4 linked regions of the Homo sapiens genome follow. Each later gene encodes a partner of the first gene's protein in a complex. Each region holds a gene or a part of one and is shown in the gene's direction. Other genes may lie near its edges.

Evidence for each region.
Region 2: TAF1A (region 1) and POLR1H share a complex: the UniProt entries of both Homo sapiens proteins name them as parts of the pol I pre-initiation complex.
Region 3: TAF1A (region 1) and POLR1B share a complex: the UniProt entries of both Homo sapiens proteins name them as parts of the pol I pre-initiation complex.
Region 4: TAF1A (region 1) and TAF1B share a complex: the UniProt entries of both Homo sapiens proteins name them as parts of the transcription factor SL1/TIF-IB complex.

What each region holds. Positions count from the first base shown.
Region 1 is NC_000001.11:222,565,445-222,573,336, reverse strand, and holds part of TAF1A (TATA box-binding protein-associated factor RNA polymerase I subunit A), read left to right. Parts: intron 1-2,671; coding exon 2,672-2,802; intron 2,803-3,668; coding exon 3,669-3,827; intron 3,828-3,912; coding exon of another isoform or gene 3,913-3,954; exon of another isoform or gene 3,955-5,912; intron 5,913-6,811; coding exon of another isoform or gene 6,812-6,863; intron 6,864-7,892. UniProt on the Homo sapiens protein: Component of the transcription factor SL1/TIF-IB complex, which is involved in the assembly of the PIC (pre-initiation complex) during RNA polymerase I-dependent transcription.
Region 2 is NC_000006.12:30,057,065-30,064,995, forward strand, and holds POLR1H (DNA-directed RNA polymerase I subunit RPA12), read left to right. Parts: upstream 1-4,200; 5' UTR 4,201-4,460; coding exon 4,461-4,605; intron 4,606-4,852; coding exon 4,853-4,953; intron 4,954-5,159; coding exon 5,160-5,269; intron 5,270-7,608; coding exon 7,609-7,633; 3' UTR 7,634-7,843; downstream 7,844-7,931. UniProt on the Homo sapiens protein: Core component of RNA polymerase I (Pol I), a DNA-dependent RNA polymerase which synthesizes ribosomal RNA precursors using the four ribonucleoside triphosphates as substrates. Can mediate Pol I proofreading of the nascent RNA transcript.
Region 3 is NC_000002.12:112,537,981-112,545,769, forward strand, and holds the start of POLR1B (DNA-directed RNA polymerase I subunit RPA2), read left to right. Parts: upstream 1-4,514; coding exon 4,515-4,691; intron 4,692-7,684; exon of another isoform or gene 7,685-7,789. UniProt on the Homo sapiens protein: Catalytic core component of RNA polymerase I (Pol I), a DNA-dependent RNA polymerase which synthesizes ribosomal RNA precursors using the four ribonucleoside triphosphates as substrates.
Region 4 is NC_000002.12:9,909,292-9,917,183, forward strand, and holds part of TAF1B (TATA box-binding protein-associated factor RNA polymerase I subunit B), read left to right. Parts: intron 1-1,444; coding exon 1,445-1,622; intron 1,623-2,219; coding exon 2,220-2,266; intron 2,267-3,867; coding exon 3,868-3,958; intron 3,959-7,892. UniProt on the Homo sapiens protein: Component of RNA polymerase I core factor complex that acts as a GTF2B/TFIIB-like factor and plays a key role in multiple steps during transcription initiation such as pre-initiation complex (PIC) assembly and postpolymerase recruitment events in polymerase I (Pol I) transcription.

The sequences.
Region 1 (7,892 bases):
GAAATATTTTCACCTTTTCTGTGTGTTTTCACTATCTTTTTATTTTATTTTACTATTATTATTTTTTGAGACGGAGTCTCACTCTGTCACCGAGGCAGGAGTGCAAGTGGCGCAATCTCAGCTCACTGCAACCTCTGGCTCCCAGGTTCAAGTGATTCTCCTGCCTCAGCCTCCCGAGTAGGTGGGATTAGAGGTGCCTGCCACCACGCCCAGCTAATTTTTGTGTTTTTAGTAGAAATGGGGTTTCACCATGTTGGCCAGGCTGGTCTCGAACTCCTGACCTCAAGTGATCTGCCCACCTCAGCCTCCCAAAGTGTTGGAATTACAGATGTGAGCCACTGTGCCTGGCCTTCTTTTCACTATCTTGATGGTGTCCTTTGAAGCATAAAAGTGTTTCATTTGATGAGGTTTAATTTAACTGTTTCTTCTTTTGTTGCTTGTGGTTTTGGTATCACATCTAAGAAGCTGTTGCCTACTGCAAGGTCGCAAAGATTTTCACTTCTTCTGAGAGTTTTAAAGTTTTAGCTCTTATATTTTGGCCTTTGAGTTAATTTTTATGAAGTAGGTAGGGGCCCAACTTTATTATTTTGTATGTGGATATCCAGTTGTAGCATTTATTGAAAAGTCTATTATTTTCCCACTGAATTGTCTTGGCACCCTTACTGAAAATTAGTTAGCAGCCGGGAGCAGTGGCCATGCCTGTAATCCTAGCACTTTGGGAGGCCAAGACAGGTAGATCGCATGAGCCCTCAGGAGTTCGAAACCAACCTGGGCAACATGGTGAAACTGCATCTCTACAAAAAATACAAAAATTAGCTGAGTGTGGTAGCGTGTGCCTGTAGTCCTGGCTACTTGAGTGGCTGAGGTGAGAGGTTCACTTGAGCCCAGGAGGTAGAGTGAGGCTTCAGTAAGCTGAAATCATGCCACTGCAGTCCAGCCTGGGAGACAAAGTAAGGCCCTGTCTTACACACACACAAAAGAAAATTAGTTACCTATAAATGTAGAGGTTTACTTCTGGACTCTAAATCTTCCATTGATCTACATGTGTCTCTCTTTCTGCCCATATCACACAGTCTTGATTACTACAGCTTTGTAGTACTTTTTTTTTTTTTTTTTTTGAGACTGAGTCTTGCTGTGTTGCCCATGCTGGAGTATAGTGGCAGGATCTCAGCTCACTGCAATCTGTGTCTTCCAGGTTCAAGCGATTCCTGTGCCTCAGCCTCCTGAGTAGCTGGGACTACAGGCGTGTGCCACCACGCCCAGCTAATTTTTTCGTACTTTTAGTAGAGACGGGGTTTCACCTTGTTGGTCAGGCTGGTCTCGAACTCCTGACCTCAGGTGATCCACCCACATCGGCCTCCCAAAGTGCTGGGATTATAGGTGTGAGCCACCATGCCTGGCCATAGTCATAGAGTACATTATCCAACTTTGTCCTTTTTAAAGATTCTTTGTTCTTCTTTGGTCCCTTGCATTTTCGTATGAATTATAGAATCAGCCTGTCAACTTATGCAAAAAGGCCGAGTTTTTGATAGGAATTACATGTATCTGTAGATCAATTTGACAATAGTAAGTCTTTCAACTGAACACAGAGTGTCTTTTCATTCATTTAGGTCTTAAAAAATTTTTTTTCAACAGTATCACTTTTCAGAGTAAAATTTTGCATCTCTTTTGTAAAATTTCTACCCATTTTGTTACTTTTGATGCTTTTGCAAATGGCATTGTTTTCCTAATTTTATCTTCTGCTTGTTCATTGCAAGTGTATAGACATACAGTTGATTATTGTGTATTGATCTTGTACTCTGCAACCTTTGTGAACTCATTTATTAGTTCAGTAAATTTTTAGTGGGTTCTTAGGATTTTTCTGTGTACAAGACCATGTCATCTGCAAATAGAGATAGTTTTACTTCTTCCTTTCCAATCTTGGATATCTTTTTGTTATGTTCTTGCTTAATTGTCCTGGCTGGAACCACCAATATAATGAACAAAAGTAGTGAGAAAAGACATTTTTGTCTTATTACTGATTTTAGGGGGAAAGCATGCAGTCTTTTATCATTCAGTTCAATGTTAGCTATGAGTTTTTCATAGATGCCCTTTATCAGATTGAGGAAGTTCCTTCTGTTCCTACATTGTTGAGTCTTTTTATCATGAAGGGTTATTGTGTTTTTTCAGATGCTTTTTCTGTGTCTATTGTGATGATCATGAGGTTTTGGTCCTGTATTCTTTTGATTTGGTTTAGATCAATAGATCTCTATTTTATTATTTGCATTAATTGATTTTCAGATGTTAAGCCAACCTTGCATTCCTAGTATAGATCCGACTTGGACATGATGTATAATGCTTTTTATATGTTGTTGGACTCAGTTTGCTAGTATTTTTGTTAAAGATTTTTGCAGCTATATTCTTAAGAGATACTGATCTGTAGTTTTATTGTGTTGTCTTTGGTTTTGGTATCATGGTAATACTGGCTTAGAATAAGTTAGGAAGTATTCTTTTCTGTCCTTTTTTTGGGAGAATTTGTGAAGAATTAGTATTTTCCTTTAAATATTTGTTGGAATTTACTGTTGTAGCTATCAGCAACTGAGTTTTTCTCGCAGATAGTTTTTTAAATTACTAATTTAACAGAGGTCCTCAATGTTTAATGAATGTTAAAAGATCTTGTATCTTTGGGCAGATAAGGATGATTATGCTTACAATGCAGTAGCCCAGGATGTGTTCAACCACAGCTGGAAGACATCTGCAAATATTTCTGCATTGATTAAAATTCCTGGAGTTTGGGACCCTTTTGTGAAGAGTTATGTAGAAGTAAGTAGAATTTTCATTAAATTTATTGGTTTTATTTTGTCAAAAGCCTATACAAAGACTGCATGCCTAATCTTTATTGATCAGAAAGAAACTAATGGAAAAAATTATTTAAAAGAAAGCAAAAATACGGTGTCTCTTTTTTGGTCTGAATTTGTTTATTTTCACCACTGTATAACCCGTCGTGGCCAAGTATCTATAAAATAAATAGCAGTATAGTTGTAAATGTTAATTCAATCTTATTCTTGTTGAGCTTAAAAGAAATGCAGTAAGATACCTTATGATTTGGTGGGATATAGAAGGAAAGAGGACAAAAATCTGAAAAAATGGGTCATACTATATGAGGTGAAGAATGATGGCTTTTTGGAAGTTCATAAGAATGTCCTGTCATCCCAGAGTCATTGTAAAAGGACTGAGGGCCTTGGTGCTAGGCACTAGGAATAAATCTTCAAAATAATTTGCTTTGTGAAAGTTAATGAGTGGCAAGTTGATAATTGTGTTGTCAGAAGATAATCTCCAAAATCATAATCTGGAGATTCCTGTGTAAGGATGGGAACAGGATGAAAGGAATTACAATTCTCATGCACTCCTTTTGTGGCTGCAGTGATGTAGGGCACTGAGGTTAGCTGCATCACATTTTCGAGCATTAGTGTTCCCTGCTTTGAGGACTCTTATTTTTTATAGGAAGAGAATTTATGTTGAGGTTGCTGCATTGTTTATTAGTAGTAACAAAATACAGGGAAAAAATGGGAACCCTGTCAGTTTTGTGATTTTTAAAAAATACCCATCAGTAAACTTATGCTGTGTATTATTTTTCGTATAGCTGTCTTACAGAATTCAGCTAAGATATTATGATTTATTTTATATAGATGCTGGAATTCTATGGGGATCGAGATGGAGCCCAAGAGGTACTCACCAATTATGCATATGATGAAAAGTTTCCATCAAATCCAAATGCCCATATCTACTTATACAACTTTCTAAAGAGACAGAAGGCACCAAGATCAAAATTGATAAGTGTGCTTAAGGTATAGAATTTTTATCTCGATGTTTGACCAGGGTTGGGAATCTACATTAAAACATTCTTAGGCCATTGCTTTCTAACTTTTATAGCATCTACAGAAAATTTCAATAATGTACAGTACACTGAGATAAACAGAGAAAGTTGGCTCCAGCTGCCATCTCCATGTATGTATCATCCACACTATCCCCTGCTGCCCGGATGAGACTGAGGAGAGAGGATCAGAAGTCTTGTGCAACCCTGGTTGGAATACTCTGCACTGATATTTTTTGAAAATCAACTTTATTGAAATTTAGTTTTCAGAGAGTAAACACACTTATTTTAAGTATGTGCTTGGATGCGTTACATTCATGAACCACCATGGTAATCATGATATAGAACATTTCTGTCGCCCCCAGAATGCCTTTCATTTCCCTTTGCAGCCTGTCTGTCCCCACAACCATGGCCCCAGACAATCACTGATCTGCTTATTGTCACTATAGATTAATTTTTATCTCTTCTAGAATTTCATGTAAATGGACTCTTATGTAGTCATTTTAATCTGGCTTCTCTTGCTCAGCGTAACATATTTGAGATTCACCCATGTTATTGTGTATATTAGTAATTTCCTTATTACTGCTGAATAGTATTTCATTTTTATACATTCACTTCTTGATGGACATTTGGGTAATTTTTACTTTTTGGCTATTGTGAATGATGCTGCTGAGAACATTCATGTACAAGATTCTGTATACACATATATTTTCATGTTTCTTGGGTAGCTACCTGAGAGAGGAGTTGCTGCCTAAGAGTAGTAAGGAAAGTATATGCTTAACTTCCTAAGAAACTGCCCAGCTGTTTTTTGAAGTGACTGTACCATCGACATTCACACAGCAATATGAAAATTCAGTTTCTCCACATCTGTGCCAACACTTGGTATTGGAGGTCTTTTGAATAATAGCCTCTTGTGGGTGTCCCATGTGGCATTAAATTGTATTTCCCTAATGACTAGTGATGTTGAGCATCTTTTAGTATGTCTATTGGCCATCCTGTATCTTCTTTTGTCATGTGTCCAACTACTTAGTCTATTTTTGGGGGGATCAATTGTCTTCTTACTGATTTGGAAATTTTTATATAATCTGGATATAAGTCCTTTGTGAAGAATATTAATTATGAATATTTTCTCTCTGACTGTGCCTTGCCTTTTGGTTTCCTTAATAGTATCTTTCAAAGAGTAGAAACTTCTAGTTTTGATGTTCAGTTTGTACATTTTTTTTTCTTTTATGGTTAGTGCTTTTTGTCTAAGAAATATTTGCCTATCTCAAGATAATGAAGAGTTCTTTTTTTTTTTTTTTTCTAGATGTGTTGTATAGTTTTATGTTTAGGTCATGGTAGATTTTTAGCTATTTTTTTGTGGGTAGTGTGTGGCAAAGGTCAAGGTTCATTTTTTCCCATGTGGTTGTTCCAGCATTATATTGAAGACTCTCCTTTCTCCATTTAGTACATTTGGAACTTTGTTGAAAACCAGTAGGCTGTATATGAAGTCTGTTGTGTTCTAGTGATGTATATTTCCACCTCAATAGATGAAAATTCAGTTTCTCCACATCCTTGCCAATACTTCATATTGTAGGTCTTCTAAATGTGAGTTATTGCCATTCTAGTGGGTGTGTAGTAATATCTCATGTGGCCTTAATATGGTTACTGTAGCTTTGTAGCAAGTCTTGGAATCATATCATGAAAGTCATACAAATTTGTTCTTTTTCAAAATTGCTTTTGGCTTTTCTAGGTTCTTTAACTTTCCATGTATATTGTATAATCAACTTACCTGTTGCTACAAAAAGGTCTTGCTGAGATTTTGAATCTATAGATCAGTTTGAGAGAATTGACATCTCAACTGTATTGAGGTTTCCAAAGTGTAAACATGGCATGTCTCTCCATTTATTTAGGTTTTTAATTTCTCTCTGAACTGTTTTGTAGTTTTTAGTGTATGTATTTTGTTAAATTTGTCCCTAAGTGTTTCATGGGGTTGTTGTATATAATATTGCTTAACATTTTAAATTGTGGGAAAATATATACAAAAATAAATGTTACCATTTTGATCATTTTTAAAGCATATAATTTAGTGGCATTAAGTACATTCATTCACAGTTTTGTGCAACCACCATCACTGTCTATTTCCAGAATGTTTTCGTTATCCGAAGTAGAAACTATTCATTAAACAATAACTCCTCATTGCCTGCTCCTCCCAGCCCCTGAAAACCTCTGTGCTAATTTCCATCTTCGTGAATTTGATTATTCTAGGTACCTCATATAAGTGGAATCATATAACATTTGTCCTTTTGTGTCTTGCTAATTTCACTTAGCATAATGTTTTCAAGGTTCATCCATGTTGTAGCATATATCAGAACGGCCATTTTTATTTAAGGCTGAATAATATTCCATTTTATGTACCTACAACATTTTGCTTATCCATTTCTTGGTAGACATTTGGGTTGTGTTTGTTGTTTGGCTATTATAAGTAATGCTGCTCTAAAGATTAGTGTACAGGTATTTGTTGGAGTTCGCTGCTTTCACTTCTTTTGGGTGTATACTCAGGAGTGAAATTGCTGGATTATATGGTAATTCTTTTAACTTTTTGAGGAATTGTCAAACTGTTTTCTACAGCAACTACACTATTTTACATTCCTACCAACAATTCCACATCCTGGCTAACAGCTTCTATTCTCCATCCCCTTTTTTGATCATTGATATCCTAGTGCAGGGATCCCCAACCCCTGGGTCATGGACCGGTATCTGTTTGTGACCTGTTAGGAACCAGGCCACACAGCAGAAAGTGAGCATCAGGCAAGTGAGCATTACCTGAGGTCTGCCTCCTGTCAGATCAGCGGTGGCATTAGATTCTCATAGGAGCCCGGACCGTATTGTGAACTGCACATGGGAGGGATCTAGGTTGTGTGCTCCTTATGAGAATTTAATGCCTAATGATCTGTAACTGTCTCCCATCACCCCCAGATGGGATCATCCAGTTGCAGGAAAACAAGGGCTCTCACTGATTCTACTTATGGTGAGTTGTATAATTATTTCATTATATATTATAATGTAATAATATAAAGTGCACAATAAATGTAAAGTGCATAAATAATGCAATCCCGAAACCATCCTTGACCCTCACACTGGTCTGTGGAAAAATTGTCTTCCACGAAACCAGGACCTGGTGCCAAAAAAGTTGGGGACCGCTATCCTAGTGGGTGTGAAGTGGTATCTGTGTCTCAGTGTGGTTTTGGTTTGCATTTCCCTAATGTCTAGTGATGTGTATCTTTTCATGTGCTTATTGGCCATTTGTTTATCATCTTTGGCAAATGTCTATTCAAGTCCTCTGCCCTTTTATGAATTGGGTTGTTTGGTTTTTGTTGTTAAATTATAGGAATTCTTTGTATATTTTGTGTTCAGTTTTTAATCATGGCATTTTAGAGGTGAAAGACAAAGGTCCTTTCAACCTAAAGAAATGATAGAGAAAAGTTCTTATCTCTGTTTTCTTTTAAAAGGCCAATTATCTTTATACTTTCGTGATCAAAATTGGCATTATCAAACCTTCAGATGTGGAAACTAAGTTTTATAAATTTTTCAACAGGCTTTGTTTTACTAAACAATCCTTTGCTGTTGTTGTTGTTTGAAACAGGGTCTCACTCTGTTGCCCAAGCTGGAGTGCAATGGCATGATCACGTGAGGCTCCCTGTAGCCTCCACCTCCCTGGCTCAGGTGATCCTGCCACCTCAGCCTCCCGAGTAGCTGGGACTACAGGCACACGCCACCATGGCTGGCTAATTTTTTGTATTTTTGGAGAAACAGGGTTTTGCTATGTTGCCCAGGCTGGACTAAACAATACCTTTAAAGTTGCTATTTTTATTTTACTCTCTTAAGATAGCTTTTGGCTCATTTATATTACAAAATATTAAGGATTGTGTTTAAAACAAAAGCAAGACTGTGCTTTCAGGTTATCAATCACTAATGGTGTTTTTGAAAAGATTTTTTAAAATGCTACAGAAAATAACTGTTGAATACTTATCTCATATTTATATTCAAGACAAGATGG
Region 2 (7,931 bases), on another chromosome or scaffold:
TGAGACTTATCCATAAGAATACTCACTTTAATCCGACTTCTACTGCATGGTTGGAAAAGAAGATACGCAATAACTCTTTCAAACTCCTTTATCTCTTTTACTCTCTCATGCTTCTCATATGTAAGTAGCTGGCTCTGGCTTCTTCTCAAGATTCTCTCCTTGAGTCTTTGTTCTGCAAGTTCTCTCCCTCGAATCATGCGTTCCTGGTGATCCTTAGTCTGCATCTGTTCCCTCTCATTTACCTGCTTTCTTCTCTGTGCGTTCTGGATGCCATGCCCTTCTGGCATAATTTTTGGTAATTTTGTTTCATTGGGGGGTTGTAGTACTTGTCTAAATGGTTTGTTCTTAAATTCTCCAGCCTTTCCTGTTTGATGTATGTGCCTTTCTATGTGTTTCATCTCTCTCTCAGGTACCAAACAGTACTGTTTTAGTCCTTCTACGCTCTGGGTTGTTTTCTCCTCCATTTTTTTCTAGATTTCATTGCCTGTCTCTTCTTTCATCATTTCCACTATTATTTTATTATAATAAGACTCTGCTTTGGCAAGCCAGTAGTCAAGAGAAACAGCTTGCTCCCTACAGAGTATTTCACACTCCTCCTGATATTTCTGCATTATCAACTGTCTTGCTGCTGTTGTATGCACACCACCTAGATTCTGTCAAAGTGAAGTCAGAAATTTATAATGTGATCATCTTTTTCCTTTGAACACATTTAAACAGGAGCCAAGCCCACCCTCCCTAATGACACCAGGAAAAGCTACATGCTCTTTACTTTAGCTTAGTTGTTATTTTATTCCCATCACTCCCAGGTGAGCCTGGGAGCTCTGAAAGTATTAAGTACTCACCACCACAAATCAGTAACTAGGTTTAAAAATGTATGGTGTTGGAAGTTTCCAAAAATGATACTTTGTTTTGCAACTGTGGATATAGCTGGGTAACATTTGCCAGTGTAGACATACTACCTGAATGTGTCACTTGGGCAGAAGGATTTTAAACCTAAGATTCCTTCTCTGTGTAGTTCCAAACTGTATGATGTGAAGATAATTTACTTACCAAGATCTTTTTTTCCAGTGGAGACTGCTGACCTGCAGCAATCCTAGGATCTTTAGATGATGTACCCCAGGCCAATCTGGAAGATAAAAAAGGCAAGGTAGATTCAAATGTAGGAGGTGTCAGAACAAATCTGCTAATAGGGAGGACTACAGCAGGGCCATTTCCCCCATGGGAAACCACTGCATTCCTATGGTAGAAAATAATGAATGCTCTTTTAATAAGAGGATCTTTCCTTTCATATGAACAAGCATACTTTTCCTGTGGACTCAGCGTGAACCACTGTGAATCTCGTATTGGGGATTGTGAGTGGGAAGAGACATGCTCCTTGGTGAGGTGTTGTCCAAGTACATCTATGTCAGTCTGCTCAGTCCTCAAGCCTCCTTTGTGTTCTGAGACGATTGTAGGTTCTAGTTTTCTAGACGATTCTAGGTTTCTAGTTTTCTCTTCCTGCAGTTTCTTGATCCGGGCCCTCTCTGACTCTATCAGCACATACAGCATTTCTGCCCTCTAATCTTTTGTTCTGAAATTCTGTTATTTGACTGCTCAGCCCTCTGCTTGCCTGACTAACAATGCCAATCATCCTTCACTCTAAATCCATTATGAGACTATTCCCTGTTGAACCCCTCAGGATGGCAATTTGTGGTTACTCTGGGTTTATTTATAGAGGAGGCTGATGGCAACACAAATGAAAACTATCATCTTTTATGTGTCATCCCTGGTCTAGCCTGAGTTTACTGTGATGTCGTATTTAAGCCACTGAGGATGCCTGGCATTTCCTCTGTATGTCTTTTATACCATTTAGAGTTCAAAGGATGGTCTTTACAGTCTGACAGAGCTAGATCTGAAATCTAATTCTACCACTTCCTAGGTGTGTGACTCAGGGCAAGTAACTTCTGTCAGCTTTCTCATCTATAAAATGGAGATGTAAGACAAAAATCTGCCTCTCAGGGTTATAAAGAACAAATATGAATTAGATGTAAAGAGCTTGGTAAGTTCTCAATAAATTCTATCTATCTGTCCTTCACAGGTCAAGCTCCTGATTATAAAGTCTTTCCAGTCTACTCTGTCAGTGATCTTCCCTTCCTCTAAATACTTGACATATTTTAATTCTACAACTCATTTGAAAATTAATCGTGGTTTACACTGTGATATCTGTATTCACATATCACTTTTAACATTTTGATGCTGAAATTTAGGCTCATAAGGAATGAAAACTGTAATTTATATCTACAAATATGATGCCTCTATATTGTTGGAAAGGATCTGATATCAAATATTTGGTCTCACTGACCTCTTAGGAACATTCTTATTTGTCTACGTAAGCTTATTTTGAGATTGTAAACGTATGATCATCTTACTTTTACTTCTCTGTACATGGCTTCTAGCACAATACTTAACATTAGAGTCTGTGATCCCAAGTTCTCAAAATTAATGATTTGCTGATTGCTGATGATCCTTGACACATAATATCTGAGCATCTTTTTTAAATATCTGCCATAACATTGTATCTATTTTTATTAAGCCATTTCCCAGTCTTCCTTGAAGTTTACAGATATGTTTCCTTTATATGCATGTTCTGGGCTCTCACATTTTGTACCTACTAGCACAGTTTTATTATATTCTAATTATTCATTCATGTTCCTTGAGGTCAGAGAACACAGATTTCAACTTTGCAGGCTCAGCCTCAGCTCAAAACCTGGCATAGTTGCTCAATAAATCTTTACTGATTAGACTGTGAGCTTTTGTTGGGAAAAGGATATGCCTTTTAATGCTTTGTTCCTTTACTGCAATTCACAGGGGATGTTGGCTGTTTTTCAAATTAAAAACAGAAAACTGAGGAGGGTAGAATTTCAAGTTCCATTTTCAAAGGAGACACACAGATAAGTGAGAATAAAAACTGTCTACGACAATCAGCTCAACAACACGTCTCCCTTTGTAAGACAGAATAACAAGCAATTTCACAGTTAAATGATAGGGCTTGTCACTCTTCAGCAGTTTGCTGAGTTTTAACCCTTTCACTATGGCGTTCTCTCCATTATTACAGAGAAAGGCAGATGGGAGCCTCTCCCAGCGAAAAGACTACAGCTTGTGTCCTTCATAGGAGAAAACAGTGATGGCTCCAGAACTTTTATATGAATGAACTTAGCACAGCTATCAGAGTGGATGGTGGTGGGAGGGCTAGCAGGAAACTAGTAAACAACTACAAGCTGCCCCTTCAGGGAAAGTTTCTACTTGGAATATAAGTTACAGATTAATGAAAATAGAAAGATTTCCCAAAGATACTTATTCTCATGTTTTATAAAAGATCAGGGAAATGTCAGCTGTCCACTTAACGGATGACATAATGAATTAAGAGTTCGATAGGCGGCAGGCACAACTAAAAGCCAAACTCGACCTAAGTCTTATGAAATCCTACTTAATGAGCTTTCTTGACTACTGCTAGCCTCACTTATCTGGCAGGAGTCGAAGGAGAGGAAGCCCCAAGCTCCTCTGTTCCACCACCTCCAAAGTCCTGAACCCCTTCTCAAGTGTACCACTTCATCCCTGCTTCCTTTCGTCCCGTGGGACTAAGCATTCCTCGGGCCTTCACTCTCACCACTTGCTGTCCCTCAAAAAGCCGACTCACCCCTTTCCAAGCGCAGTGAACCGTCCGCAAAGCACGAGGCCGGTTGCGAGCTGCAGAAAGCCCACGCTCGCCAGCGGGACCCAAGGAACGCTAGAACTATACGTCCCAGAACACTTAGCTTTGTTTTTAACTACGGTGCAGCCGCAAAAGGGAAATACCGGCTCAGGACCCAGGGGAGTTGTAGTTCTCTAATCCAAAGAAATCATTATTTGGCAACGTACGGTTTTCAGGGGGATATACCCCGCGACTGCGTTCCTGTAGGATGTGAGACAAAGAGAATAAATATCCCAGGATTGGGTGCTGGTGGGAAAATTTGCTGGAAGCGCAGCATTGGTTACCAATTTTGTGCTCAACCTCTCAGTACCAGGGTGAAAGTGGAGACGCAATCTCCCTTGGAAGACGTTAGTCTCCATCTCTAACGCTCCCGAGACACGGTTCGCAATTAATTATGACGTCACAGCCAATCGTCAACGCGAAAGCCTGACGCTCTAGCCGGCTCTATCTCGCTGCCCCGCCGCGGGCGCAGAGCTGGCGCTCTAGCCCACGGAGTTGGTTAACTCCTCTCACCGGCCCCTGGAAAGGGTTCCAAGTCCTTTAGTACCCGACGCTGTCTGGGAATTCCGGGCGTTTCGGCTCCTTGGTCGCAGAGGCAGGAGGCGTGCGTGGCAGGAGGGTTCGGGTTATATACTCCTAGGTCCTGGGACAGAATAGTTACGACCTCTGGGACAGGAACTCTTCTCTCTTTTGTTAATAAACTTCCAACTCCCTCCTCAGACCCGACCGCATGTCTGTCATGGACCTCGCCAATACTTGCTCCAGCTTTCAGTCGGACCTGGATTTCTGTTCAGATTGCGGCTCGGTCCTGCCTCTGCCCGGGGCTCAGGATACGGTCACCTGTATTCGCTGTGGCTTCAACATCAACGTTCGGGGTGAGAGGCTTGTACGCAGGGGTCCTGGCGGAGGGCGCAGGGTCGGAAGCTTGGGGAACTCAAGATCGGTTGGGTTGAGGAGGGGATCCTAGAGCAGGACATCAGGCGGTTGTACATTTGGTCTAGCGATGAAAACTGAGGGAAAGGATGTAGGGCCTCCTGGCCTAACCAGCCAGGGGAAAGGGGAGGTTTCCGGTGTCAGCTCTCTCTGGTTGTCTCCATAACCAGTTCTTACTTGCCTGTGCAGACTTTGAGGGGAAGGTTGTGAAGACTTCGGTTGTGTTCCACCAACTGGGGACAGCCATGCCTATGTCGGTGGAGGAAGGGCCTGAGTGCCAGGGACCTGTGGTAAGCTAATGAGATCAAGAACTGGCTCCATAAGGTGGGTAGGAAAGAAATGGAGGAGTGATTGCAAAGCTCTGGAGAGTTTTGTGCCCAATTCCAAGAGGGAAAAGAGATGTAAACCATCGACGTTTGAGAGGCGTGATCGCCTGATTCCTGTGGGAAGTAAGGGGATATGACCAGGCCTCCCTAACCCACCAGTTTCTTCCCAGGTTGACAGGCGCTGCCCTCGATGTGGTCATGAAGGAATGGCATACCACACCAGACAGATGCGTTCAGCCGATGAAGGGCAAACTGTCTTCTACACCTGTACCAACTGCAAGTGAGTATTCTTTCCCCTCCCTCTGCTCAGTCTGTTTGCTAACTAAACAAATCCAGTGATTTATTTTTTTGTACGAAATGGCCGTTTCCCTTGGTCCCATCCCTTATTTCTGTGCAGTTCTGGTAATAGGGAGATTTGTAGTTGTTTTTTATTTTTTTAAGTTACACTTTTTTAAACCTTTTTATAACCAGTGAAATAAACCTTTTAGGATTTTTTTTTTTTTTTTTTTTTTTTTTTGACAGGGTGTCGCTCTGTCACCTAGCCTGGAGTGCAGCGAGGCAATCTTGGCTCACTGCAACCTCCGCCTCCTGGGCTCAGGTAATCCTCCCACCTCAGCCTCCAAAGTAGCTGGGACCACAGACACATGCCACCACGCCTGGCTTTTTTTTTTTTTTTTTTTTTTTTTTTTTGTATTTTTAGTAGAGATGGGGTTTCTCTATGTTTCCCAGGCTGGTCTTGAACTTCTGAGCTCAAGTGATCCACCCACCTCAGCATCCCAAAGTGCTGGGATTACAGGCATGAGCCACCCCGCCTGACCTACTTTTAGGATATTTAAAAGGAAATGAAGAAAAAAAAAACAACATAAGAAGCAGGTATTGTTTAGTGGTCAGCATCTTATACTGCAGTCTTCAACCGCAGTCAAGGTAGCTTTCTTTGGAGAGAATTAGTCACACATGACTTAGAGAACATGGGCTTTCTGAATGCTTTTAAGACCTCATTTTTGTCTTTGGTGTTCTGCAGTCACTATAGTATATCAAAATACGATTTTCTTTTATTCTGTTTGGGATTTGTTGGACTTTCTGAAACTGAGAGTGGACTTTTTTTTCATCAACCTTGGAAAATTATCAGCCATCATCTCTTTTAATATTCTCTTTCCCCCATGTTCTCAGTCCTCACATTCTGGACCTCGAATTAGTTACTAGAAAGAGGTTTCTCTCTTCTGTCCTCCATTTCTCTCACCTTCTTTTCATATTTTCAATTGCTGTTCTCTTTATGCCACCTTCTGAGTAATTTCTTCAGGTCCCTCTTCCATGTCACTAATTCTGTCTTCAGTTTATTTCAAGTATTATTATTTTTTACTATTGTTATTATTTTGAGTTCTATTTAATTACTTTTCAAATCTCCTTAATTTTTAAATAATTATCAGTTCTTTAATCATATTTTAAATTGTTCCTTTTATTATTCTTTAAATATATATTTAAAATATTAAATATGGTTATTATATTCTATGTCTTATAATTCTGATATCTGCGGATTTTGTGTGTCTGATGCTGCTGTCTTTTGTTTCTGCTGTCTCTCTCATAGTGCTTTTTTTCTTTGTTTTGTGATTTTTGACTATAAATTCGAGTTTTTTAGAACTTGAACTGTAGGAATTCTTTGAGGCCTTGGGCGAGTGCTGTATTCTCAGCATTTGTGTTTCTTTTCTAGGTGCCTTGAAGCACTATCAAGCTGGAATTACTTTAAATAAATTCTTGGCTTCATGTTTTTTGGAGCAGACAGATAGTATGAATTTGAGCTGCAAATCCATGTAAGGGCTAGCTTACAGTTAGAAATTCTCAGGAGAGAGTTTTCTCTCTTTCTACCTACTGAGACAGTCAAATTCCCCTTCTATAGAGTTGAATTTTTTCTTTTCTTGTTCACTTTTACAAGAAAGGGCAGCCTTTTGCAGTTCCCAAATTTATGCACGGGATCTCCTATCAGACCTTATACATTTTGTCCCTCATTTCCTATGCTTCCAGTGACTGTCAAAACAGTATAAAGGGCACCATAGTGTCACTGTCACGTTTCATAGGGACATTAGTTTTAACTTCCCTGTCTGGATTTCTGGTTTTACAGAACTTTTAACCAGTGTGCAGATTGCCTTTACTTTCTTGCCATCTCATCAAAGGATTAAAAATATTCATAGTCAGATATATCTTTTAAAAGTATTTTTTTCCTATCACTGGTTGTCATTTTACCAAAAAAAAAAAAATTTTTTTTAAATAAAAAGAAGATTTTTTTTCCCAGCGTGTGGCTTGCCTATTTTCTTAACCCTCTTTAAATGAGCAGAAGTTTTAAGTTTTTATAAGGTTCAGCTTATCCTTTTTTTTTTCTTTTACAGCTAGTGCTTTCTGTGTCCTAAGAAATCTTTGCTTTGAGGTTATAACTCATTGGATATATTTTTAATCCCAGAATTTTTAGTTGTCTTGGAATTAGAATTGGAAGTTTGTTTAGGGGAGCCAGTCCTCAATGATGTCATAAATAAAAGTCCTTCCTTGATTATTTGATTGCATATCTTATCTTATACTACTAGAAACTCATCTTTTGGTGAATATAACAAGTCCTTTCTTTCCTCATAGGTTCCAGGAGAAGGAAGACTCTTGACCTTTTTCCTGGGCAACTCTACAGTCCCTCCCTCCTTTCGGAAGGTGAAGGATACTGGGTTTTTAGATGCCTTGTCCATCCTGTCTGGTTGCAATGTTTTGCTCCCAGAAGAGAATCAGATCATCATGTGGGGATTACCATTGTTCCTGGAGTACTCCTACCCTTAGTTGAATTTCCTTATTAAAGTTATATTTTTCTATAAGACCCTGACATATGTATGTTACTTATAATCTGTCTTATTCCAAAAGGAATTTAAATGAGTTTCCAGAGATATATTTATATGAAAAAGAAAAGGGGG
Region 3 (7,789 bases), on another chromosome or scaffold:
CTCAGTAAATTTAAAAGAATTGAAATTATACTACATATGTTCTCTGACCATGTTGGAATAAAATCAGAAATCAGTAACAAATTTTGTTAATTTCTGTATTAATGAAGAAATATACAAGTAAAGAGGTTGGACTAATAATAATTCTTTTAAAACTTCCCACAGGGAAAAGCCCAGGACCAGATTGTAAGCCAGATGGTAAGGAATTAACACCAATATTTCATAGAGTCTCCTAAAAAATAGAAGAGAAGAAAATACTCCTCAATTGAGAAGAGTGTCCTCAACTTTATGAGGTCACTCTTAATACCCTGATACCAAAACCAGACAAAGATGTCACAAGAAAAGCAAATAGCAGACCAATAATCTCTTGGGAATACAAACGGAAAAAATCTTCAACAAAATACTAGTAAACCAAATCCAGCAACATAGAAAAAGGATTATACATTATGACTAAGTGGGACTTATCCTAAGATTACAAAGTTTGGAATAACTCATGTTCTCTTGTAAGTGGAAGCTAGGCTGAGCACGGTGGCTCACTCCTATAATCTCAGCACTTTTAGGAGGCCAAGGTGGGCAGATCAAATGAGGCCAGGAGTTTGAGTCCAGCCTGGGCAACATGATTAAATCTGGTCTCTATAAAAAATACAAGAATTAGCCAGGCATGGTGGTGCATGCCTGTAATCCCAGCTACTCTGATGGCTGAGGCACAAGAATCGCTTGAACCTGAGAAGAGGAGGTTGCAGTGAGCAGAGATCGCACAACTGCTCTCTGTCCTAGGTGACAGAGCAAGTCCTGTCTCAAAAAAATTAAAAAGTGGGAGCTAAACATTGGGTACACATGGACATAAAGTTGGGAAGAGGCCAGTCGCGGTGGCTCACGCCTGTCATCCCAGCACTTTGGGAGGCCAAGGCGGGCGGATCATGAGGTCCGGAGATCAAGACCATCCTGGCTAATATGGTGAAACCCCGTCTCCACTAAAAATACAAAAAATTAGCCGGGCGTGGTAGCAGGCGCCTGTAATCCCAGCTACTCAGGAGGCTGAAGCAGGGGAATCACTTGAACCTGGAAGGCGGAGGTTGCAGTGAGCCGAGATTGCGCCACTGCACTCCAGCCTGGGTGACAGAGACTCTGTCTAAAAAAAAAAAAAAAAAAAAAAAAGATGGGAACAGCAGACACTGGGGACTACTAGAGCCAGGAGAGAAGGAGGGGAGCAAAGATTGAAAACTACCTATTGGATACTGTGCTCGCTACCTGGGTGACAGGTTCAACCATACCCCAGACCTCAGCATCACCCAATATACCTTTGTAACAAATTCGCACATGTACCCCCCTGATTCTAAAATAAACGTTGAGAAGGGGAAAAGAAAGAATGCAAGGTTTTTTTAACATACAAAATTTACTTAATATAATATACCACTTTAATAGAAAAAAGAGGACAAAAAGCACATGATCATTTCAATATACACTGAAAAAGCATTTGGCAATACACAACACTCTTTCTTGGAAAAAACCTTTCAACAAACTAGAAATAAATTACTTCCTCAACATGATAAAGAGCATCTTTGGAAAAACCCACAGCCTACATCATATTAATGGTGATGTGAAAGCTCCAGTTGGGAGCTTTCTTCCCAATATCAGGCACAAAACAAGTATATTTATTCTTGTCACTTCAACATTGTATTAAATGTTCTAGACAGAGCAATTCGACAAAAGGAAGGAAAGAAGACTGCGCATTCAGATTGGAAAGGGAGAAGTATGATGATCTCTCTTTGCAGACGACAAGATACCATATAGAAAAAGTCCTAAGAAATCCACTTACGCTGTTAGAACTAATAAAGAGTTTAGCAAGATTGCCAGACACAAGATCAATATACAAAACTCAATGGTATTTCTACATATTACAAACAATTTGAAGTTAAGAAAACAATTCCATTTATATCAACACCAAAAAGAATGAAATACTTAGGAATAAATTTAACAAAAGTTCATTTCTACACCAAATACTACAAAACATCTCTGAAAGAAATTAAAGAACACCTAAATAAATGGAAAGACATCCCATGTTTATGGATTGGGAGATAATTATTGTTAGGATGAAAATAGGCCCCAAATTGATCTACCAATTGAACACAATCCTGATCAAGAATCTCAGCCTTCTTTGCAGAAATTGACAAGCTGGGCCGGGTGTGGTGGCTCACACCTGTAATCCCAGCACTTTGGGCGGCCAAGGCAGATGGATTACTTGAGGTCAGGAATTCAAGACCAGCTTGGCCAACATGGTAAAACCCTGTCTCTATTAAAAATACAAAATTAGCCAGGCATGGTGGTGCATGCCTGTAATCTCAGCTATTTGGGAGGCTGAGGCAGGAGGTAGAGGTTGCAGTGAGCCAAGATCATGCCACTGCACTCCATCCTCAGCAACAAGAGCAAAACTCTGTCTCAAAAAAACAAAAAACAAAAAAAAAAAAAAAAGAGAAAGAAATTGACAAGCTAAGCTGACGCTAAAATCCATATTGAAATACAAAGGATCAAATAAATCTGGAGAAAGAAGAACAAAGTTGGAGGATGTGCACTTCCTGATTTCAAAATTTATTACAAAGCTGTATTAATCAAATCTGTGTAGTTTGTAGACAGATATACAGATAAATGTAGATAGACATACAGATCAAGAGAATAGAACTGAGAGTCAAAAATAAACCCTTGCATCTATAGTGAACTGATTTTCGACAAGGAGGCCAAGACAATTTGATGAGGGAAAGAATAGTCTTTTTAACAAATGGTGTTAGGACAACTGGATATCCACATGCAAAGGAATAAAGTGATATGCCTTTCTCACACCATATACAAAAATTAGCTCAGAATGAGTCAAAGACTTAAATGTAAGAGTTGAAACTACAAAACTCTTAGTAGAAAATATAGGTGAAAATCCCCATGATTGAAAAATATCTAGTATTTGATAGCACAACAGGGTGACTGCAGTCAGCAATAATTTGTTGTACCTTCAAAAATAACTGAGGAAGTACAATTGGAATGTTCATGACAGAAATGATGAATGCTTGAGGTGATGGAAACCCCATCTACCCTCCTGTGATGATTACATCGTATGCCTATATGAAAACATCTCATATACCTCATAAATATGCTAATTATGTACCCATAAATTTTTTTTTAAATCCTCATGACCTTGGATTACACAATGATGTCTTAGATATGATATAAAAAGACAGGCAACAAAAGAAAAAAACTACACTTCAAAATTAAAACGTTTTGCTTCAAAGGACACCAGCAAGAAAGTAAAAACCCACAGAATGGGAGAAAAATATTTGCAAATCATGGATCTGACAAGGACTAGTATAGGCTATATAAAGAACTACAACTACTCAGTTGGCCGGGCGCGCGCGGTGGCTCATGCCTGTAATCCCAGCATTTAGGGAGGCAAGGCGAGAGGATCACTAGAGGCCGGAAGTTCAAGACCAGCCTGTGCAACAGACTCCCGGCTCGAATTTTTTATAAAAAGTGATATAGGAATGAAAAGTACCAGCTGAACTAGGAAAGGGGAAGTTGACAGTAAGGAGGGACTATCAGGGGCAGGAGGATACTGGGTAGTGGTGGTTTAATTCATTGTTTTAATTGTGGTGATGGCTGCATGGTTGTATACATAGGTCAAAACTTAACGCGTACACTTTAAATGTGTGGTTTATTGTATGCCAGTTATAACGCAATATAGCTGTTAAACACAAACACAATAAAGTTGAAAAACCAGCAGGCATTCCCTGATTAATCAGTATTCTGGGGAGGTAAGGGGCTCACAGGAACGCAAAAGAAATTCAGGCTGTAAATCCAGTTGGACGCCCCGCTGCCCCATCCCCTCCATCCGGGACCGCCCGACTCCTCTCCCACCTCCTTCCCCAGGCCTCCCCCAGGCCTCCAGTCCGGAAGATGCGACGAGGTTAGCGGGGCCCGACCACTCCTTGGCTTCCCAGGGGTGAGCCTCGCGAGTTAGGAGTTGGGTAGAGAGTCAGCCCGGGGCCCGGCATCCGCTTTTTCGTTGAAGCAACGACTTTGGCCGGATGACTCCCCAGGGTCGGCATCAGCGTGGGACTGGGAACAGGTGAAGGGAAACAGAAGAGAGCCTGAGAAGACCGCTCTCCTCCGATCCTAATTGACTGAGCCAATGAGAGCCAAAGAGGTCACATGCTCAACTGGGCGGGGAGCGGGTTTCCACCTGCGGCATCTTTCGCGAGCGGGGAGATGAGTGGGGCGGAATATGGGAGAAAGGGAGGGCCCGCCACGCTCTGGCTGGACACGGCCTTAATCGGCCCGTTCACTCGACGTTTTTGGTTCTACGTTGACCCCGAGAAACCGAAACCGCAGGGCCTAGGGCGGGTGGAACGAGAGGGAACTACATTTCCCAGCAGGCTGCGGAAACGGGACTGCGGCCACTACTTCCGGCGTGTACCGAGAGACTGGCGTCCGGCGTGTACCGAGAGACTGGCGTCCGGTGTGCAGGTGGCCACATGGATCCTGGCAGCCGGTGGCGGAACCTGCCCAGCGGGCCTAGCCTAAAGCACTTGACTGACCCCTCTTATGGAATCCCGCGGGAACAGCAAAAGGCAGCGTTGCAGGAGCTGACGCGGGCGCACGTGGAGTCCTTCAACTACGCTGTGCACGAGGGTCTCGGCCTCGCGGTGCAGGTGAGCGCGGCGTCCGCCGGCGCCCTTGCCGCGGCGAGGCCAATCCCAGGGAGGTGGCTGGGAGGTCACAGTATGACCCCAGATGCATGTGCTCCTTGATCCTGACAGGCTTGGTGGGTAAGCGGGAGAGCACAACATGTTAAACAGGACGCGGTACTGGCCTTCGTGAGACTTGGAGTCGAGGCGTCTTAAGAGATGTATTCGTGATTCTGGAGTGAAAAGTGATTGTGAACCGTAGTTTGGACAGTTTCGGGGTGCTGTGAGAGTGAGGAAGTGGCTTATCTGGGGATGTGCTTCACAATGCACACGGCTTTATATCACTTGAAGACTTACCTCTCCAAAACGTACCTCGAAAGATCCCGAACGTATTTGTAGGTACAGTGTAATGTTCAAGGTTATCCTTCAGTTTCCTTCTCTTAGAGCTTTAAAGAGAGAAACTACTCGTCATTTGTTATGAATTAAGCAGGTGCCGAGGAAGGTATAAATGAGTCATGAAAGCAAGATTGAATCGAAAAGTGTAATTGCATTATTAGCGTAGAGTAATGGTAGCAGAATTCAAGTGAGTATGGTGGGGGAAAGCTTCGTTTAGTAAGCATCCCCAGTGTCTCCAGGCACTAGGCTCAGAGGATGTGGAGGAGGCAGTCCCGTGTACGAGACAGTTCATGCATTTAAGTGCTCCCTGTCGTGTTTGGGGGTTGAAGGGGTGAAGATAATGAAAGCAGTGCATGCCAATGTTCTTGAGAACTGCTCTGCCAAGGGATTGTGTGGGCTACTGCGGGAGCCTATGGGCGGCGCAACTAATCCAGGAGTTTGAGAAAGGGCAGGATTAGATGAGTTCAAGAAGTGAGAAACGTGCATTTCGTCCAGGGGAAGAGTAGAGCAGAGTCACATGCTTCGGGGACCCTACCTGTGGTTTTGTTGGGTAAGATTTGTGTTGTGGGAGATAGGGATACAGATAATGTGGAGAGCTTTGATTGCCAGTCTGATTCTTGAACTCTATTCGGCAAATAATATGGGAGCCATTAAGATTTATTGTTTAGAAAGACTAGAGGGGTGGGGGTTATTTGTATTGTGCCTGGATTGTTACAGTATCATGTCTGTGAGAAAAAATTCCTAATTAAAAGTTAATCGGGCTGGGTGCAGTGGCTCACACCTGTAATCCAGGACTTTGGGAGGCCAAGGCAGAAGGATGACTTGAGCCCAGGATTTCAAGACCAGCTTGGATAACATAGTGAAACCCCATCTCCACAAAAATTTAAAAATTAGTGGGGCATGGTGGTGCGCACCCAAGTAGCTGGTCCCAGCTACTCGGGAGGCTGAGGTGGGAGGATAAGTTGAACCCAGGAATTTGAGGCTGCAATGAGCTATGATTGTGCCGCTGCACTCCATCCTCGGTAACAGAGTGAGACCTGTCTTTAAAAAAAAAAAATCCAATTGAGAAATTTTAGAAAAGCACTAATTTAAAAATAAGCCAGTCGGCTGGGTGTGGTGGCTCTTGACTGTAATCCCTGCACTTTGGGAGGTCAAGGCGGGTGGATCACTTGAGGTCAGGAGTTCCAGACCAGCCTGGCCAACCTGGTGAAACCCCATCTCTACTAAAAAATACAAAAATTAGCCGGGCATGGTGGCACATGTCTGTAATCCCAGCTACTCAGGAGGCTGAGGCACGAGAATCGCTTGAACCTGGGAGGCGGAGGTTGCAGTGAGCCAAGATTGCACCACTGCATTCCAGCCTGGGTGACAGAGTGAGACTCTCCCAAAAAAATAAATACATAAATAAATAAACCAATTATATGTTAACATTTTTAAGAAAAATATTTTCCAAAGCAAAAAAGAAGTTAGATGAATTGCATTATTAAAAATCTTTTTAATGTCTGGCTTAATGAAAAGACAGCTGGATTCTCATGTCTGCTTGTGCATTCAGTCCCTTGTGATAATTGTTTTGGTTGAAGTAGATGAAGAAAATTTGGCCCTGCATAGAAAATGATGCCACAACTTAGCTAGGACTATAATAATATAGTATTTGAAAAAGTTCTGTAAAACACAGTAACATAAATAACTAATACTTATAAAGCCAAGGGAAAAAATAGTTATCATATTTTTTACTTACAAAACATAATTTTGCCAAGTTTCTTTGGAGTGAATTCCTCCTTTCTGTGAGTCAGAATTTATGTGTCTGTCTTTTCAAAATACAATTGATTTTTATTACTTGGGGATTCCATATTTGCAAATTCACCTACTCACTAAAATTTACTTCTACTCCAAAAGCACCATGCCCAGAAGCAGCAAAAAAGTTGAGTTGCTCAGTGTCCATTTTCCCAGCTGAGATCTAACAAGGTGATGCTCGGCCTTCTTGTTTTAAGTTCTTAAACTATAAACAGAGGTTGTCTTCACTATCTATTTAGTGCCGTGTTTTGTGCTTTTTGTTGGTGATTTTGCTGTTTAAAATGTCCCCCAAGCAAAGTATTAAAGTATTAAAGTTCTGTATAAAGTTCCTAAGCACAAGAAGGCTGTGCTGTGCCTTTAGGGGAAAATATTAATACATGCATTTAACATAGGCTTTGTTCAGGCATGCGTTAGGGACTCAATAATATATATTAGATAAGCTGTCCTTAAACAGAAACCCACATAATGCAAGGTTGTGTATTGATCAGTGGATGAAATCATAGGCTTTGTTCAGGCATGAGTTACGGACTCAATAATATGTATTAAATAAGCTGTCCTTAAACAGAAACACACATAATACAAGATTGTGTGTTGATCAGTTGATGAAATGTGACCAGAGGCTCGCAGGAAGCTAACCATGTATTTACCCTAGGAGCAGTGGTTCAGTATTGGCTAATTCAGTGTTTATGGCAACTGTATAGAACATAACTATTATGAATAATGACAGTTCACTGTATTTCCTTCTAAATAGTGCAGCTGCGTCTTGAGAAAGCAAATTGTCTAATCTCTCTTTTTTTAACTTCATTCTGTTTTTTTTTTTGAGACAGGATCTCACTTTGTCACCTAGGCTGGAATGCAGTGGCATGGTTATAGCTCACTGCAGCCTCGACCTTCCAGGATCAAGTGATCCTCCCACGTCAACCTCTTGAGTA
Region 4 (7,892 bases), on another chromosome or scaffold:
TACATGCCAGGACATCTGCTTTAGCACTCAGAAGAGGGCCAGTCACAGGAGGCTGTGGTATCATGTCTGTTCTTAGAGGAGGTCACTGGTATAACCAAGTTCTCTAAGATGAGTGAGCTTCAGCCAGGCAGAGCCTGAGATGAGGAATGGGGGAAAGAAACTGGCTTTCTAGGCAAAGGGGCAAAAGTAGCTGTGCAAAGCAGAGAGGCAAGTGAGAATATGGCTTGTTTGGGGGAACTATGGAGATTAGGCTGGGAGCTAAAAGCTTTAGTGAGTTCATGAGAGCAGGGGAATACGATGATTGGGCCACAGGAGAGTAAGACTAGAGAAAGGGAGAGCAGTTATAAGGGTGGCCTAAGGAGCAACAGTGACGGGAAGAAAGGGGATGGATTGGAAAGCAGTCAGCACTGATCCAAGTGCCTTAGGTATATTCATTAATTTAGTCTTCACAACAGCTATGAAGCAGGTACTATTCTTATTCCTATTTTAGATAGATTGTTTAAAAACTGAGGCACAGAAAGGTTGTATAACATGTCCACGGTCACAGAGCTAGTAAGTGATGGAGCAGGGACTCTAGTCCAGGCAGTTTGGTTCCATAGTCTATTCTCAACCATGGTACTATATGCCACATTGAGAGAATGGAATTAACAGGACATGGTGACTGAATGCATGTAGAAGATTCAGTTCAGTTCCATGCAAGCTCATTATCTCTTATAAAAAATGGCTGTCATACTTGAAATTGTGTGGTCACAGCTTACATACTTAGATTGGGAAGTACAGAAATTTTTTGTTTAGTTTTCAAAGTCTATTCACTTGAACATAACCTCAATTTATTCTCATTATAACCCATTTTACAAGTGAAGAAACTGAGGCTAAGTGACTCTGATCCAAGAGTCACAAAGCTAGTGATTGGAAAGCTTAAATATAGGTCCTAGGTTTTCTGGTTCCAAGTCCCACATTATTCAGTCTTGAGTAATAGGTGTAGTCTATGCTGAACATATAATTTCTTTAGGAAAGCAATATATCTAGTTAAACAGTTGTTGAGGGCTTCCAGTGTGCTAGCCAGGATGCCAGCCAGTGCACATACATTGCTAGAGAAGCTTTTGGTCTCATAAGGGAGTTAGTTTTAGGTGAGCAAACACTGCTATAGAAACACAGACAAGAGATGTGGATGAAACAACTGGTATGTGGCTGCCAGATGCCAGGATGTGTCCTAGAAATAGTAGATGTTTTAGGAAGTCGGAATAGGGAATGATACGCCGTTTTAAGATTCTACCATTCATTTTTCTATATGGATGCCATGTTTTGATGTTTTATTCACAAAATGTGGGTCTCTGAGTTCTTGCATAGTGTCGTGTTTTAAGATAAAGGTTATTTTATGGATATATACATTGGGGATGGTCTAGTTGGCAAATAATTTACATTTTACTGTTTTGTTCTTCAGATGAAATGCATAGCTTAACTTGCCACGTGGTAAAAATGACTGGAATGGGAGAAGTGGATTTTCTGACATTTGATCCTATAGCTAAAATGGCAAAAACTGTTAAGTACGATGTACAAGCTGTAGCTATCATTGTGGTGGTATTGAAACTGCTCTTTCTATTGGATGACAGTTTCGAGTGGTAAGTGTACGTCAATTTTATGACAAGTAACATTTTATGGTGCTGATCTTAGTTTTTTAAGAAAGCTTTAAATGTCATGAAGACACTTTAAAAAAAGAGCTAAAGAAAAAATTTGTACTGTATTTACCTAATTATATGTTATCTCAAAAAATGGAGACTCTCAATTGTTACAGAACATTGACTAGTAGTCACAATTATTTCTTACACAGTACTTTGACTCAGCTGGTTGTCAGTTGTTTGATCATGTTTTATACCTGTTATTCTTTAGGTAGCAATGTTCCTCATTGCTCCACTGATTTCCTAGTTTTAAAGTATCTTCATAAATCTCTATCTATATCCCTTTAGGCTCCTGGCAATATGTGTTCTCAAAGATTATTTTAGAAAGTAAAGGAATCTTAATATGTCACCCCTCCCAGATGCCAACAAAGAGTGACAGTATTTATAGTGTCTCCTCCTCTGTTTCAGTGATTGCTTCTCCATTAAAACATGGTATCAATTTCAAATACTGTTCTACACTTTTCTCTCAGAAGAATTCAGAATTTATCTTTCCAAATACATGACTTCTAAATAAATTGATTTGTTTATTGTTATCTCCAGGTCTTTGTCTAATCTTGCTGAAAAGCATAATGAAAAGAACAAAAAAGGTATTTTAATTTTTTATCATTCAAATTCAAAGTGGTTATAGATGATAGATTAAAAGATGGAATAAATGTAGGCAAACAACTTTGAAAAATACACATATACACATAAACACATGTATACAAATTGTATATTGTACCAGTATTGTTTTTTCATATAATTACCTACTTGTATCTCTAGGGTACTAAAAAATATCAGTGAGTCCGTATTATATGTAAGACCAGGCTGCTTTGTATTCCCAACTTCTACTCACCAGCCATGCTAGATCATGAATTTACAGGCAGCTTTGTGACCATCCTGTCGATTCTGATGCTTTCAGCCTTTGCTCTTGTTGGTCCCTCTATCTGAAATGCTCTTTCCTTCTTACCCCAACTCCTGTTCAGTCCCTGGCAAATGCCTCTTTATTCTTGAAGATGCAGCATAAACACCACTCTTCTGTCTGGTCTTCACACCTATCCACTTCACAATGCTTCACCTCTTCCCAAATCAGAACTAATAACTCCTGCCGCAGTCACTCTTGTTCAGACTTTTGCTAGATGTTTAGTGCCTTGAGGTCTAACTAATGGCCTAAGTACGTCTGTCCCTATTAGATTGCCAATATTTGTAAAGTGCTTAGAAGAGTATCTGGCATCTAATAAGTACTTTATAAGTGATAGACAGATAGACAAGTGAAGTGTGAGCTTCTGGAGGGAGGGATCATATCTTTTTTTTTTTTTCTTTTAATGTATCTTTAGTGCCTAACATAGTGACTAGCCTAAGAGCAACTCAGTGAAGTGTGGTGAATATGTGGATTATTAAATTCAATTCCAGTTTCTTAATGTTCTGTTCTCATTAGGATTTATGTTCATTGGTTTTAGAGGCTTGAATTTATTGGAAGCAATCAGTTTGTGTGTTCTTTCCAGAATATGTGCAAAATAAAATACTACTTTCTGTACATTGCTCATGTTGGCTTCTATGTAGAGTGAAAGGTTGAACTAGCTGTCTTCTAACATCCCCTCTAATGCTAAAAGATGATAATTTACTACGTAGACATGTAGAATAAACAGAGCGCTTTGACCTGTCTCCCTGTAAGCCTCAAAATAAATCCATGCTGTCAGCAGGGCAAAGATCACTGTCATTTCTCTCTGCTCTGTCTGCTAATCACCATCCCCTGCCCCCAGCATTATTGATGGGGAGATTGAGGTTTAGAAAAGTTGTGATTTACTCCAGGTCCAAGAACCGTGAGTTCTATTGATTACTATAGTTTTCCTCTGTTCTTACAGTTCTTTCGGTAGTTTCCTCTCTTCTGTGGCTGTATGGTCTACAAGGTCATATTGGATTAAACAATTATCATATTGACCAGTTGAAAAGATTTTTAGTTAGGCATGGAAAGAGACTGCCTTCGCCAGAGAATAATGGAGAATAATCCCTGTATGGAGTGAAAGAGTGAGGAGTGAGTTTTTATACTTTACTGCATTCAGTTCTGTTGTCTCTCTAATGTCTACATCTTGATCACACACTCACACCAACTGCCCAGTGCAGTCAATTAATGAAAACTCAGATGAACAATGTATATTATTATAGTGTGGTTTATTTGGTTAATAATCTTGGATTTTATTTCTTTCAGATAAGCCATGGTTTGATTTCAGAAAGTGGTACCAAATTATGAAGAAAGCTTTTGATGAGAAAAAACAAAAATGGGAAGAAGCAAGGGCCAAGTATGTTCTCCTTCCTGGTTTAGATGCACCTGCCTTACTTCTGTGTCTGTTACTTTACATTTGAAAGCTGAAGCTTCATCAGTATACACTTATCTACATTGTGACTTTTTTTTCTGGAAATATTAGCCCTACACTCTAATTAACTTTTCTCTTTTTTACATTACTATTAATCAAAGTTTAGATTTGATGTGGATTTCACCAGTGTTTTTATTAATGTCCTCTTTCTGTTCCATGATCCAATGCAGGATACCACAGTATACTTTTTATAATTTAACTTTTTATAATTTGCATGAGACTTGCCTATATTTCTAATACTCCTCCCTCTTCCCCTTTCTCAAATTTAGTCATTTCTCATCTATGCTTCCCAATATTAAAAAGATTACAAATGTTACCTTGCAACATATGTAATTGGAATGTTCCCCCAAAATAAAGATCCCTGTGAAAATTAAAACAAAGGAAAGCAGATAGCAAGTCCATTTGATTCAGCCAGTGTCACTGCCTTTCTTTGAACTGTCATTCTGATGTGGGCTCATTGTGGTAGGGTAGAAGAGAGCATAAGCAGCGCTAGGTTTGAATCCTGTCTGCATTACAAGCTAGCTGTGTGCCCATGGGCCAGTTACTTAACCTTTTGCTGAGTCTGAGTCTCTTTGAGGCTTTGAAGAAAAAGGTAACATCTCTGTATTTAATGTAAATTTACAGTAATACTAATTCGACTCAGTAATTTTATATCCTTTGAGAAAAATCAAGGTTCCCCATATTAGTTGAAATGAGAATTTGTTCAGCTCCTATTTCTTCATCAGTAAAATAGACATAATAATGCCCACTTATATACTGTAATTAAGACCCAATTTTCCAGTATGAGAGTAGAACTAGATTATTTTTCCTCTAAATTTCAGAGGGCTTTTAAATAGAAAAACAGACTCTTGGGGTAGAAAAGGCACTGTGGAGATGATCCTTTCCATAGCAGGGAAGTGTGACAGGTTCCCTCTCAGTAGGCAGGATTGATGCACAATGAAGAAGAGGGGTGGAGGTGAATTTATCCCAACAGCCCATGGATTCCCAGGAAACCAGGCTCCCTGCCTCCTCATCAGAGAAGGAGTGACTCTTCAGTCAGTGGCTCTCAGTGGGCACAAGAATAGCAGCAGGAACAAGATTTTGTTATGTGTCTTAGGTCATTTTGGAGAATCAGCCTTCCTTTCTGTGGTGCTAGCTGGGGTTAGTCCTGACGGATCCTAAGGACTGGGTGCCTAGGGGCCATTCCTCCCTGGGGTCTCAGTGGTGACAGGGCTTTCCTTACCCCAAGCCAGACACCAACCTACACTTTAAACATAGCTCTTGGAGGCCCAGTTCATTATTGCAGTGTTATGTCAGTTGCACATTTAAGACTTACCGGCTTTTAGCTACTTTAGGGAATAATTTATTGGCCAAAGAAAGTAAGTCTGGTTATAAAATGGCACTTTCCAGGGAGGTACCGGGCCCCAAGGTGGAGGCTGTCGAGGGGACCCGTTTCCAAGGTCCTTCTTCCTAGAGTATGTGCTGAGGGCTGACACACACGTGCAGTGTGAGTCACTGCTGAGTAATATGCGAAGCACTACCAACTGCTGCTCAGGCCCAGAGCTCAGTGCGTGGTGGCCACCTGTCGGTTTCACCCTTCCCCACCCCCATGTTGACATACATGTCTAATTTTTCTCTTTGTTTCTCTGAATATTATCATCCATGTTGTCAGATGAAAATTATTAAAACATTTTCTATATCTGAGCATGGGTTCCTATGCATGAGATTATGAAAAACACTAATAAACAATAGTTGAAAACCTAAAACAGCGTAAGAGGCTACTTTGATGACTTCTAGCTGTTATAGAAGATGTTGAGAAGAACATGGAGAAAAATTAAGCCTGTGCAGAAAATCTCTATGCCCTAATTGGTGTATAGTGATATCTCATTATGGTTTTAATTTGAGTTCACTGCTAATTTTTGCCTTCCCTTTTGGGTTAGGCAGAAATTTCTTAGATGTGACACCAAAAGCATGATCTATAAAAGAAAAAAAATTGGTAAATTGGACTTCATCAGAAGTAAGAACCTCTGCTCCACAAAAGAACTTAAACGAATAAGAAGCTACAGACGAGGAGAAATTAAATGCAAATCACATATCCGTTTAAAGATTTGTATCTAGAGTATATAAAGAATTTTTAGGCAATAAGAAAAAAACTCCATTTTTTTAAATGGGCAAAATATTTGAAAAGACGTTTTACCAAAGATGATATCAAGATGGCATGTGAAAAGATGTTTAACATCATTAATAGGGAAATGCAAATTAAAACGACAATGACATATCATTATATACCAATTAGAATGGTTCAAAACAAAACAAAAACAAAAACTGATCATTCCCAGTGTGGGAATTCAAAATGGTACCGCTATTTTGAAAAGTTGTCAGTTTCTCAAAGTTAAACATACATTTATTATGTTATCCAGTGTTTTTCACTCCTAGATATTTACCCTAATGAAATGAAAACAAGCTCACACAAAAATCTGCATAGGAATGTTTCTAATGGTTTCATTCATAATTGCCAAAAACTGGCAACAAACCACATGTTCTTCAACTGGTGACTAGCTAAACTGTTGTATCCGTACAGTGGAATACCATTTAGCAGTACAGACTTCTTATGCATCCAGCAATATGAGTGAATCTTAAATGCATTATGCTATGTGAAAGACTCAAAAGGTTACTTATGCTATGATTCCATTTATATGACATTCTGGAAAAGGCTAAACTATGGGGACAGAAAAACAGACCAGTAGTTGCCTGAGATCAAGGGTTGACTGTCAAGGGATGTGGGAGATATTTTGGAGTGATGGAACTGTTCTACGTAGTAATTGTGGTGAGTACACACATGCAACTGTATGTGTTTGTCAGTGCTAGCAGAACTACACTGAAAAGAGTAAATTTTACTGAATGTAAATTATACCTTAATTTTTAAAAATGAGGAAACATATGCAGACAGACAAGAGAGAAATATATAGATAACATGTAACTGGAAAACATGGTTTGTGATGTGTCTCCTTTTGTAGTTTTATGTAATGAGAAAAGGCAGGCAAGGTAAAGTCAATTTTGGAAGAAGCTTTCATTTCAGGTATCTGAACACTTAAGAGTATTTTTATTTTAGATCACCTTTCCCATTCTTGGGGCATATCACCCCAAGGGCATCATAATGCTTTCTTGATCTGTGGCATGATTGCCACTTGTGTAGGCATTTACTGTAAATGCATAAGAAACTTCCATTTAGATTAGGTATTCACAAGGAATGTTTAACAGTGAGTGTGCCCAGGGATTGGGATTAGACTGTTCAGGGAACTTCTTTATCCTTTGAGATTTTATTATTTAAGAAAATTAATGGCAAAAAAATATATTTTAAAGAATCGCTAACTCATTTACCATAACATTAAATGACAAACTCTCTGATATATTTTAAATGTGGTATGGTTCACTAAAGTTTAGTTTCACATGATTTTCAGGAAACCATCTCCTGTATAACATTAATTACATCTCTACTGCTACCTAATGATTAGAAAAATTTCCTTTCTGTTCTTTTTTTTTTTTTTTTTTGAGATGGATTTTTGCTCTTGTTGCCCAGGCTGGAGTGCTGGAGTGCAATGACACGATCTCGGCCCACCGCAACTTCCGCCTCCCGGGTTCAAGCAGTTCTTCTGCCTCAGCCTCCCAAGTAGCTGAGATTACAGGCATGTGCCACCATGCCCAACTAATTTTGTATTTACTAAAGAGACGGGGTTTCTCCATGTTGGTCAGGCTGGTCTCAAACTCCCAACCTCAGGTGATCCTCCCACCTCAGCCTCCCAAAGTGCTGGGATTACAGGCATGAGCCACTGCGCCCGACTCCTTTCTGTTCTTAACATTTAATATCATTGCAGAAATT